Regions from separate parts of the Homo sapiens genome. Here all the other regions are reported to be linked to region 3. Evidence: microRNA targets listed by miRTarBase, many of them from high-throughput screens and not tested one by one. Region 3 holds a microRNA gene; each other region holds the end of a gene's coding sequence.

Region 1 (3,270 bases), not on the chromosome of region 3:
GCCCTGGCTCAAACCATCCTCCCGTCTCAGCCTCCCAAGTAGCTGGGATCATAGGCACATACCACACTGAGCTATTTTTGGTAGAGATGGGATCTCACTATGTTGCCCAGGCTGGTCTTGAACTCCTGGGCTCAAGTGATCCTCCCACCTAGGCCTCCTAAAGTGCTGGGATTACAGGTGTCAGCTATCGTGTCCAGCCTGAGATATTTCTTATGAGTAATGTGGATGGTACGTGAGTCCATAGAGTAAGGCATTTATTGTAAACCTCCAGGGAGTTTCTGAAAATAGTATCTTCTCTTCAAACCTAGGATGAAGCTGGAGGCAGATTCGTCGCTTTCTCTGGAGAAGGACAGTCATTGCGTAAAAAGGGAAGAAAGCCCTAAGTGAGGACTGTTGGCTGATTGGAAAATAATAAAAGAATCATTTGCAACATCTTGGCTTTTAGTTACTGGCACTGACAGGGACGAGCCTCATCAGAGAATACTCTGTTACTTAAGATTTATTTAGAGTTACCTAAGAATTATTAAGTTTGACTTGGAAGTGGAGCAGCAGGACTTTGTAGTTGTATGCTTGATTTGGGGAAAGACAAAGAGCTGTCCCTGAGGGCCTGTAGATAGCTGCCTCCTCACCTCTTCACGCTTTCAGCTTGAGGGGAGCTCCCACTGCCTCAGCAGGAGCAATTCTGCATCCCTAATTCTGTCAAAACCTATGAAGGTGACTAAATTGTCTAACATGAAGTGTTCTTTCTTTTTCTTCATTTATCCTTTCTTTTCCTACATCAATTGCATAGGTGTCAGTCTTTGGCCTAAAAAAAGGCTTTAAATAGACATGTGTTCTATAAGTAGTGGCTGTCCCACTACTGTGGCTGCAATTTAAGTATTTGACAAAGAATGTTTCTATTTTTATTTTACATATTTTTTTCAAAAACACCACTCAGAAGAACCTGATCTGAATGAGTTTGCACTTTTATTCTCATTTCATATGGACATAACTGGCTCCTTAGTGAACCTGTTCATAGTGAAACAACTCCATGGAGAAGCAAACATGTGAATGTTAGAATGAACAAATGCTAAAGAGATGTTCCTCTCCTTCTTCCCTACTCCCCAACTCCCAATTTTAATTTATTAAATCATCCAAGCTTCTGCTGGCCTGTATTTTTTATCAGTATTTATTTGGTCTTAGATCTTCACTTTCTATAACGTGAGATCTTTTGACATGCTAATCTGATTATTTTAAATTTGTTCCCATGAGCCACTGTGCCTGGCCCCATTGGGAATAATTCTAAGCCAAGAATTTCAAGTAAAAACAGGCAATAACTAAAGCCTAAATCTAAATGTTTGATTAGGTACTAACACAGACTGGTGGTTGGGCCTCTGACCATAACTGAAGGCCTGTTGGCAGGTGCTCCGTGTTCCATCTCACCATTAGAAAAGTGTCCCTCTGGGGCTTCTCCTGGAGAAAGTAGGAAGAAACAAGGCTGCCTGATCCCTAGGTGGCAATGGCTAAGCCCAGCAGGGTCCCCCATGAGCCAGGGCTAACCCTGCTTCCAGACATGGGGGTCCTGCCCTGGTCAGGGCCCCTCCAACACTCCAGAGAGGAGAGAATGGTGGCCCCAGGGTCTATCCACGTCTTCAGTGAAGAGTGTCTATGAGTGTCATGATGTTCAGTACTTGGCCTGTGGCACAAACCATCATCACTGGAAATGGGCGTGGTTTTGGAAGGCATGAGCACTGTGGGGACTTACCTGAGCCTCCACTGACAAAGTCTCAGTTTTACTAGCAGAGGGAGAAACCCTTGGTGGGTAGACAGCCTTCATTTGCAGGATCACATCAGCTAACAGACTGTCACTTTATGCATAATGAAGAATGTTACAGTACCTCTGGCTCTGGGTTTTTGTCTTCACTAAGCAACACCTGCTGTGTATGCAGTGAAACGCCTGGTCCTTTGCTGGAGGCACACTCCCCTGCCTGGACCAGGATGGATTCCATTGCAGAGCCTTTTAATGACACAGTGGGGCCAGTTGGAGCACTGATCCTGGTCATTACTCCTGCACCCTGGCCTGCAGCCTTCCTCTCAGTGTCTTATTTGGGCTTGGTCCTTGAGCCGGCTGCCTCAACAGCAGGACCCCTGGTAAAACTGCAGCTTTCTGATCCACCTCCAGGGAGTCTGTCCCAGTGTCATTCCTGGGACTGGCCCAGCAGTCCCAGGATTTGTATCAGTGGATACTGAGGATTTGTTATCAGTGAAGTGGGAGAACCGCAGCATAGGTACTGCAGGGCGTTTCTGCAAGCCCACCAGCCTCCTCTTTACTTGCCTTTGTTGCCTCTTGTGCATTGCTCCTTTTTATAAACGTCCCAGCCAGGCACTGGCGCTCCGCCTATAATCCTAGCACTTTGGGAGGCCAAAGTGAGAGGGTCGCTTGAGGCCAAACTAGCCTGGGTAACTTAGCAAGACCCCATCTTTACAAAAAAAAAAAAAAAAAATTAAAAATTAGCCTGGTGAGGCTGTGCATGCTTTTGGTCCCAGCTGTTCGGAGTCCAGGAGTTTGAGGTTGCAGTAAGCCATGAACACGCCACGCCACTGCACTAAGCCTGGGTGACACAGCAAGACCCTGTCTCGAAAAATGAATAAGGTAAATGTTACATGTCTCCCGCACCCTTAGAATAGAACTACAGACATCCAAGCCACTCCTACCCCGCTCACCCCTGCTACACACCGCCTCCATACCTTTGACCGGCCTATGGCTGTACTCGGATTGCATTCTCAGCCTCCACTTCAAGCCTGCGTTCCCTGGGGAGGTCATTCAACCCTAGATCCACCATATGTCATGCCCAACCAATCTCAGTTACTTTGCGAGTTCACCTCCATCCTGAGTGGACGCTCAAGCAAGACTGCTGGAGCTGCAGATCTGGGAGGTTCGCTGCACCACCTTGATGCTCAGTATGTACTTTTGAAAATATACCGGATTGTTGAGATTTGAGAAAATCTCATAAAGCTGCTGAAAAGAACTGGCCAGAGCCGTGTGATTTGAGAGGCGGCTGACGTAAGGTAGCTGCGCGGCCCAGGATGCCCGCCTGGCCCGGGGTGAATGGCGCTGTCGTCGCGGTGGTCGCGTAGGCTTCGCGCCAGGTCTCGCCCCGGATTTACCCTGCGACCCCGGCCCTCCGCGCGCGCCGCAGCCGCCCTCGGTTGCTATTGGTTGCTCGTCCTGTTTGTCGGCGCTTCTCGAAGAAGGGGGCGAAGACGTGATTGAATGTGTCGGTGCTCATT
Region 2 (3,000 bases), not on the chromosome of region 3:
GACCATACATTCTGTTTAAAATGTTGCATGACTTAGGGAACAAATGTAACTTGAGAGACTATGGAATGATTTGCTCTAAAACATGGACAGTAAGCATTTTAGTGTAGGAGGAGGTATTTTTTGAGTTTATGAATGCTGTTTTATAATCTCTACTCATAGTTTTAAAGCAGTGATTCAAAAGAGTATATATCATTTAATGAATGTTTTTGGTTTTCTAGAATTCTTTGCTGAACTGGATAAAGTAATGGGCCCTCTCATCTTTAATGCAAGCATCATGACAGATCTAGTTCGTTATACCCGGCAGGGACTGCACTGGCTTCGCCAGGATGCCAAGTTGATATCTTGAACTGAACACATTCTCGTTGCCTCTGATTTTCTCCACAACACTGTGTCACATCACGAAGGAAAACTGCCATAACATACCACCTAGTCGACACTAAGAATGAGGAATAGTTTTCTCCTCGTTGGTTCATGTGTTGTTGTTTTTGATAATCCAAAGCGATCATGTCAGTTGGCCCTTTAATATTTCCAATGTGAAAGATTATTTAAATGCTTTTAAATCTGCAGCACATTGATAAGATGGTTTCCGTGAGCTATGATAAGATTGAAATTCCAGTTGCAATTCATAACTAATGAATTGAAATTTTATTTATTTTAATTTTTTTAAGTTCCCAGATTGGGGCTAGTTTAAGACTTAGTTATTTCTGCCTATAAATTTACTCTGTTGAATATTTAGCATAAATTTAATGTAGACATTTTTATTTATATACCTTGGGAGCTTTATTACCTAATATCTTTTTGTGGTAGCTGTTCTAAGAGTAAGAATTGGTTCGTCTAAAATAAGGACATATTCTTTCTACACCTGCTACCTGACCTGATATTTGAAATCTTAACTCCAATTTTATTATTGTGGAATTTACAGTTAGTATTAAGGATATTCTTCTACACATGAAAAAATCACTTAAATATGAGAAAATGGCATTCTACATGTATGTACTATGAAATGTGTCTGATTTGGTATGCATTATTTCAAAAACTGTGAATGTGTGTTAATAACACTACAGCAATCACACAGTGACTATAGCTTGCATTTAATGCATTACAAAAGAGGGAGGACAAACTTTCTAGAAGAAGCATTTCATGTTGAAGGGTTTCATAAAAGGACAATCCTGAACGTTACGGATTTTATTAAAACCATATGTTATTTTTTGTTGCTAATCATTTGACACTTAATCGAAACAGAATAAGTTACTGTGGAAAAAAGGATGATCCAACTCCTGAGGATTGCCGCCTGTGTGTCTTTAATTGATTATCTTTGATAGTTAGAGTTATTTTTCAGATTTTTCCCCCTCATACTGGATTGTGATGCTCTGATATGAGCATGCAATGACTGATACAGAAATAGGCTGGAGCTTCGGTGTGTGCTTTTGCTATACAGCTTACAGTTCTAATGCCTGATGTAGAGATGATGAATTTCTCCTTTTTAAACCTATCTTCTGTTTACTCCTTTTGCATTATGAAGGCCCTCTTCAATGATGTATGTTTCTGATGGAATCAGAAAATTTCACACTAGAAAAGTGTACCTAACTTGATTCAGTGTGAGCTCTTGGGACAGGGAGTGGAGCCAGGGGTAGAGCTTAAAGAAGCTGGCTCTGTAAGAGTTGTATATCAAAGTACCTTTTGCTACAAGGTGCATATAGAAGTCTAAGATAAGAAATGTACCCTCTATACTTTATTTTTCATGCCCCTATCATGTTTGGTGTGCCTTAAATCTTACCTTTAAATGAAGACTCTATGGATTGTTTACAAATGAAGTTTTACACTAGGACCAGATCGTCCATACATGATTGGTCTTCTACAATAATAATGTTCAATTCTTTCATTTTAAATCTTTCTTTAGGGTCATATAAAGATTAGTTCTTTCAGAAAAGCTATTGCTTTGGTACATGACTTAGTCTAACCAGTTGGGTAATGCTGCTTTGAAAAATAGTTTGTCCCTCTCCCCATTCCAAAAATGAATCCATTCAGTCAGAAAAAAAGATTATCCTACTATTTGTAGATGATTGCTAAGGCTTGAAATAGGAAAGGGGAAAGAAGGGATAGAAAAGTTTCAAGTCCAGTAGTGCAGTGAATCCTTTGTGTTTGAGACTTTTTTACACTTATTTCTGAAGTTAGTGAACTTTCATTGTCCCTGTGGCCTCATATTTATAGAGCTTCTTAACTGTTTTGTACCTCAGATTGTTTTTAGATGTCATTGAAGATTGAGATGTACAAATTATGTTGAATTTAACCTGTTTCTCTTGGAGAAATTGCCTCTGATATCTTTCTAACTTAATCTTAGTGTGTTCTAGGAACAGTTTTCCATAAGAGGACAACTTCTCAATGATCATGATAGTTATTTAGTAAGAAATAATGGTTGTTAATCAAATACATGTTATGTCTTGTCCTTCTCTGATTTTTCTGACTTGGATTCCTTAATTTGCAGTGATGTCTTAGAAATGGAAAAAGTATCCTCTGGGCTTTCAGACTTTCAGCAACAACAGCCAGTGGGATACCTCTGAGTTCTTGTGTTCTAGTCTCTTGTATGTCCTGAAAGGCAGCAGGAGCATTTTTGGGGTCACACTGATATTTTGTTAAAGCAGAGTTTCCTGCATGGTTTATGGTGCTGCTCTAATATTTTCTCTTTAAAACTGTGTCAATTTTTGGAGAATGAATTTTTCAACCTTTTCATTGTGGAGGATTTTTCCCACAAGGTAGTAATGGGCAATGGATCAAAATCCTATCATAAATGATTGAATTTTCAATGTCATAGTGTGTGGAAATACTACTCCCTTTCCTCCATGTCTATCTTCTTAGATGTTCTGTCTTTGTCATCATCTGCTCCAGCACATACTTTGGACTCCTTTACAGGTGACCTTCCCCCCTCCCTCCTCAATAGGTGTCCTCAGTGTTTTCTAAGCATTTAAAACTGAATTTGACAAGTGGCTAAAAACTTAGTCT
Region 3 (3,270 bases):
ATGCAGCAAGGGGCGTGGGACTGCGAGGGACGCAAAGGCATTAAGGGGCCTGGAGGCTGGAGGCCCAGCTTTGCCCCTGCCTGGCTGTGAGTGTGGCCTATTTTCTTGAACTTCTCTAAGCCTCAGTTTCTTTACTTGTAAAATGAGGATGTTAATGGTACCATGAATAGTTAGTGAAAGGTCTAGTAACAGGAATCTTGGGAAAGTGACTTAAATTCTCTGAGCCTCACTTTCTTTATCATCTGCAAAATAAGGTAAAAAATACCCCTGTTACATGCATTGTTGTAAGGATGAATGAAATAATGTATGCAATCACTTAGCATATACCTGGTTCACAGTAAATCATCAGTAAATGCTAGCTGCTGTTGTGGCGACCGTTGGAATGCAATTACATTTTTAAAGATACATGTTGGATTGAAATTGTTTGCATCATTGAATGGTTCAATACATGGAGCAGGTGTCTCACTAGAGGAACAAGAAAGCCATGCAAACTCACCAGGTAGTACCACGTTGGAAATCAGATTGCTTTTATTTATTTATTTGATAGTTAATGATAGGGAGAGGGGTGATAGAACAAATGGGTATTATCTTTTCTTCTTTCCTATAATTAATTAAAATGAAATTATGGACCTGTACAATTTCAATAGATATGGATGGATAGGATAATATTATTAATAATAGTTTTTCCAACTTAAGACCAGTTTTTTCAACTCACTGGTGCCCTAACGTTTCTGATTTTGCTATCAATCGTGAAGAGGAGTTTTTAAATTATATGGTTAAAGAGAGAATGACTTTTGCTGAAGCATCTTATTTTAAACAAAGTAATATTGAGCTTATTGATAAAATAAAGGTCAGCCCAAGAGTGTGTGGGAATAAGGTACATTTTGAAAGAAAAGAGAATGAGGCTTTAAAAAAAGTTGTTTTCTTTCTTTTTGTTACAGCTAAAAATTTCCAATCACCATTCACTTCAAATATACCACCTTGATTTTACTTTTTTTACTTTGCTTTAGGTAATTTTTATATGAATATTCTCAATAAATAATTTTCGTGTAAGCATTTATTATTTTGAGCATTACAGTTTGGACCCCAAAATGGAGTACTGTGAATTTTTTGAGAGATGCTAGAAGAACAGAAGAAACAGTAAACTTTTAAGGCAAGACATCTTTCTCCTCCCACTCTAGCAGCAAGGAGAAGAGGACATTTGCTCTTTAAGAGCCTTTTAAAAGTCACGTGGAAAGGCAAGCACTCCAAGGATTTTTTGATTCCTTTTGGCTTTGGCCAAGAAAATGAAATTATTGAGAACAGCCAGACTTTCATAAGATATTGCTGTTGGAGGGACTTTTTGGTGGGTTAAATATTATAAAATCATTGTTTTCTGGTCAATACAGAGCAGGGAGAAAATAAAAATAATTGTTGGATAGGAGCATTTTGGTGGGTTTTGCACAGACTTGCATCTTGTGTCAGAATGTGACATCAAAGGCTCAGTTTGATGGGGTCACTTTTCTAACGTGACCAGATGATGTGTTAAGGCAAAAGCAAAGTATTTTCTCCCCCTCAGGTTTTTGGAAATAGACCAAACACATAGTTCTCAAAACCACCTTCCTTTAACCCCAACCTTTGATAAAGTGCAGGTCAACTAGCTTGCCCTAATCACTTCTAAACTCATCAGTGGAGTATCTTTCCATGTTTAAGTCTCCTTCTGGCTGCTTCTCTGAATTCTCATTACGGAGCAAGTGTAGGAAGACCCAGGAATGCCGGAATCATCCAGTCACTGCATGGGTTCACTTCATCCATATCTTCTTTTTTTCAGAATACTCTTTATTCCTGTCTTATTTCAAATCCTGGTGTCATCAGGGTGATGAAGGGCACTTCTTAGACACTCGACAACATGGTGGAGGTGAAGATCTGTTGTAAAATCTGAGGGATATCCTTGGTATCCATGGCAACGAAAGACCGACCAGCTGGTAAAGTTCTCTGAAGCCTGCCAGGATGGAAAGGGAAAGGAAGTTACCACTGTAAATGGGGCTCCCTTCCACCTCCTGCCCTGGCAAACCACAGCCCCCTAATGGTTTCTTAGGAAAGGAAGTTTTTACTTTCTAATACCTTGCTCTCTGCCTACCATTGAATTAGTCGTCATTAAACAATGAAAGGCTTGGAAGAGCAACAAGGAAAGACACAGCAAAAGCAGGGAACTGAAAGAAAGGTCTTTTCAGTGAGAAAGTCAGTGAATTTGAAAAGAAAAAATTTTCTTCCTTTCTTTACTGCCATTTCTTGGTATTTCATATTCTTTTGGTATAACAGAGCCATAGGGATTCATATGGAATCAGCTCACCTCCCGGGTCTAGCAAATATGTTGACCTTACACTGTATTTCGAAGTGCTTTTCCTTCCTTAGAAAACAGGCCTCTAAAAACGCTGCGCAGCCAAACCCTGAGTGGTTCTTTCTCTCTTTCTTTGCCTCTCTCTCTTTTTTTTGGTCCACATCACACAATGTGAAATGCGATCTGGATTGTCCAATTACTGCTTCAATGACACTGAGGTTATACAGGCTTATGAAATTTTTTCCAACTCATTTTTAAGTGAATTTTAAAAAACTTATAATGGGTTTTGATTTGAATTATCCTTAAAAATAACATGTCATTGAAGTTACGATACTTTTTTAAATACTAATTTATAATTTGGAACAAAAGGCCATTTTGAAGGCAACAAAACTGTAAGACACAGTTCTCTTCAAAAGAACGCCTCCTTTCACTGTGCCAGTGAAGTCTGGCTTTGGAATGACATTTAATAAAATTCAACCATCCTGTGTAGTATCGTATATTTGGCATGCCTGGTAAGCCAGCTAATTCTGCAACATATCTTTTGCCAGTGGATGTTGGACCATTTCCCTAGGAAACCACAAGGGTATTATTGTGCTTTCTTAAGTATTCAAACAGGATCTGTTCACTAGAAAGACAAAATAGCCATTTCATCTCAACTAGTATTTGTTGAGCTTGTTGTCTGCCTAATACTGGGCTGATGCTGAGGAAAACCTGGGTGGAAAAGGCATAGTTTGTGTTTGAGGATGTGGAGGTTCTAAAAGATGCAAAGTGCTAACTTGTAAAAACTAAGAAGAATGAAAAGTCATGTCATAAAATGACTGTAACTACATGATATTAAGTCTGTTCTCAACCTCGCTCTGCAACCTTACAGCAAGGCAAAGGGAATAGAAAGAGAAAAAGCTGCTAGCATTTTGGATATTAAAACATTTCCAGTCACAGAGTATGAAAAG
Region 4 (3,000 bases), not on the chromosome of region 3:
AACAATTAAAATGCCTTATATTTTCTCTGCTTGAAAAAAATTAATTTTCTCACCTGACCTTCCATTTCTGCTTTAAAAATGTTTGTCAATGAGAAAAGTCCAATTTAAAAGCCCAACTATCTATGATGACTCAAATTAAAATACACAAATTCTCTGTCAATTCTTTCAAATTTACTTTGAATTATTTGACACTTTAAAAGCCTTTCATAGACTTGATACATACAGGCCAGTTAACTTACTTTCAGTGTTGGTATCTTTATTTTTATCCTTCAGATATAAAGAGAATGTTATGAAATTATCAATAATTCAACATGATCAACCAGTAAAGCCCCTGCATCGAGCAGTCTTCTGGATTGAATTTGTGATGTGCCACAAAGGAGCCAAACACCTTCGAGTTGCAGCCCGTGACCTCACCTGGTTCCAGTACCACTCTTTGGATGTGATTGGGTTTCTGCTGGCCTGTGTGGCAACTGTGATATTTGTCGTCACAAAGTTTTGTCTGTTTTGTTTCTGGAAGTTTGCTAGAAAAGGGAAGAAGGGAAAAAGAGATTAGTTATGTCTGACATTTGAAGCTGGAAAACCAGATAGATGGGTTGACATCAGTTTATTCCAGCAAGAAAGAAAAGATTGTTATGCAAGATTTCTTTCTTCCTGTGACAAAAAAAAAAACTTTTCAAAATCTACCTTGTCAAGTAAAAATTTGTTTTTCAGAGATTTACCACCCAGGTAATGGTTAGAAATATTCTGTGGCAATGAAGAAAACACTAGGGAAAATAAAAAATAATATAAAGCCATATGAGCTCATATTGAAATTTGTTGCACTTATATTGAGATTTGTTGTTTGAATTCACAAGTTACATAAAAATATTACTCAGTTTAACTACATTTCACACATTTTATATAAACACAAGAACATTAAGAAGTCTACTGACAGTATCAGTAGTGTTTTGCACATACTCAGAATAATTTGGCTTCATTTTGAACAGGATTCGGTTGTTTTAACTGTTGCTAAAGAAACTATTACATAGTTAAATTGTATAAAAAGTCTCTCTCTTCCTTTTGATATCTTGAGATAAGTAGTATTGCTTTACTTTTACACTGCATGCAGCTTCATTGTCACATTTTTTGCTAAAATTGATGGCCAAATGTTTACTGTTTTAAGAGCATAAGTCATTTCTCAGTGGAAATTATGTGAAATTAGAAATATAGCCACTGTTACCTGCTTCCTACTGTAAAATTGAACTGTTTTGCCACATCTTTGGTTTCATGAGCAAATTCTATTTTTTCCAGATATTTAAAGATATTTTTCTCGTTGATTTTATTCTGATATTTTTAATTACTTCAATAGTTATTTGGGAACAGGTGGTGTTTGATTAGATGCATACGTTTTTTAGTGGTAATTTCTGAGGTTACGTGGCACATATCATGTGAGAAGTGTACCTTGCACTGAATGTATACTCTTTATCCCTCACCCCCTCCCACACTCCCATCTGAATCCTTAGAGCCCATTACATCATCTTTATGCTTTTGCATCCTTATAGCTTAGATCCCACTTAGAAGTGACAATTGACGATGTTCAGTTTTCTATTCCTGAATTTCTTCACTTAGAATAATGCTCTCCCACTTCATGCAAGTTGCTGTTAATGCCATTAGTTTGTTTCTTTTTACAGCTTAGTAGTATTCCATGGTATATATATATATATATATATATATATATATATATAGTGTATATGCGTGTGTATACGTGTGTGTGTGTGTGTGTTTGTGTGTGTTTGTATCAGGGGAACCCACCTTCAATATTTCAATGTAGGTTCTTCCCATTTTCCATAAGTGTTGGCCAGCTGAGAAATAAAGAGAAAGAGTACAAAAAGAGGAATTTTACAGCTGGGCTGCCGGGGGTGACATCACATATTGGTAGGACCATGATGCCCACCTGAGCCTCAAACCAGCAGGTTTTCTATTAAGGGTTTCAAAAGGTGGGGTGGGGAGTTGTGTAGGAACAGGGAGTAGGTACAACGATCACATGCTTCAAAGGACAAAAGGCAGAACAAAGATCACATGCTTCTGAGGGAACAGGACAAAGGGCAAAGCAGAACTACTGATAAGGGTCTATGTTCAGTGGTGCATGTATTGTGTTGATAAATATCTTAAACAACAGAAAACAGGGTTCGAGAGCAGAGAACTGGTCTGACCACAAATTTACCAGGGTGGAGATTTTCCCCACCCTAATAAGCCTGAGGGTATTGCAGGAGACCAGGACATACCTCAGTCCTTATCTCAACCACGTAAGACAGACATTCTCAGAGTGGCTGTTTATAGACCTCCCCCCAGGAATGCATTCCTTTCCCAGATTACTAATATTAATATTCCTTGCTAGGCTAAGAATTTAGCGATATCTTCCCTACTTGCACGTCCATTTATAGGCTCTCTGAAAGAAGAAAAAATGGCTCTTTTTGCCCCACCTCACAGGCAGTCAGACCTTATGGTTGTCTTCCCTTGTCCCCTAAATGTTGTTGTTATTCTGTTCTTTTTCAAGGTGCACTGATTTCTTATTGTTCAAACACACATGTTTTACAAGCACTTTGTACAGTTAACACAATTATCACAGTGGCCCTGAGGTGATGTACATCCTCAGGTTATGAAGATAACAGCATTAAGATATTAAAGTAAGACAGGCATAAGAAATTCTAAAGGTATTATTTGGGAACTGATAAATGTCCATATTAAAGTGAAATCTTCACAATTTATGTTCCTCTGCCTCAGCTCCACCCAGTCCCTCCATTCGGGATCCCTGACTTCCTGCAACATCTGTGTGTGTGTGTTTGTATGTATACCACATTTTCTTTATCCACTTATTGGTTGGTTGATGGGCATTTAGGCTTGTTCCATTCTTTTTCTTTTTTAATTGCGAATAGTACTGTTGCAAACATGTATGTGTGTGGGTCTTTTTCATATAAAAATTTTCTTTCCTCCGGGAAGATACACAGTAGTGCGATAGGT

Evidence for each region. The annotated mature microRNA hsa-miR-5006-3p reads UUUCCCUUUCCAUCCUGGCAG and lies in region 3 at 1,982-2,002, opposite strand. An mRNA with a match to its seed (bases 2 to 7 or 8) in the 3' UTR can be bound and repressed. Matches are read on the target gene's strand: a 7mer-m8 pairs with bases 2 to 8, a 7mer-A1 pairs with bases 2 to 7 and ends in A, and an 8mer does both.
Region 1: miRTarBase lists UFD1 as a target of hsa-miR-5006-3p. The part of its 3' UTR that is shown has no 7-base or 8-base seed match.
Region 2: the mRNA of AFF4 is a reported target of hsa-miR-5006-3p. The part of its 3' UTR that is shown has no 7-base or 8-base seed match.
Region 4: the mRNA of UGT2B28 is a reported target of hsa-miR-5006-3p. Seed matches in the 3' UTR shown: 7mer-A1 at 767-773.

What each region holds. Positions count from the first base shown.
Region 1 is chr22:19,447,783-19,451,052 of GRCh38, reverse strand. UFD1 (ubiquitin recognition factor in ER associated degradation 1) reads left to right here. Exons shown (of 12, transcript NM_005659.7): 12 at 309-1,142. The coding sequence ends at 383. It overlaps UFD1-AS1 (UFD1 antisense RNA 1), which reads right to left. Exons shown (of 2, transcript NR_186687.1): 1 at 2,728-3,270. Among named protein-coding and RNA genes, the nearest start is that of C22orf39, 1.7 kb to the right of the region's middle. RefSeq lists an enhancer at 3,244-3,270.
Region 2 is chr5:132,878,405-132,881,404 of GRCh38, reverse strand. AFF4 (ALF transcription elongation factor 4) reads left to right here. Exons shown (of 21, transcript NM_014423.4): 21 at 219-3,000. The coding sequence ends at 346. Among named protein-coding and RNA genes, the nearest start is that of LEAP2, 6.2 kb to the right of the region's middle.
Region 3 is chr13:41,566,325-41,569,594 of GRCh38, forward strand. It overlaps MIR5006 (microRNA 5006), which reads right to left and starts at 2,071; the gene lies at 1,962-2,071. It overlaps VWA8 (von Willebrand factor A domain containing 8), which reads right to left. Exons shown (of 45, transcript NM_015058.2): 45 at 511-1,981. The coding sequence ends at 1,873.
Region 4 is chr4:69,294,257-69,297,256 of GRCh38, forward strand. UGT2B28 (UDP glucuronosyltransferase family 2 member B28) reads left to right here. Exons shown (of 6, transcript NM_053039.2): 6 at 274-794. The coding sequence ends at 553. Among named protein-coding and RNA genes, the nearest start is that of UGT2B28, 15 kb to the left of the region's middle.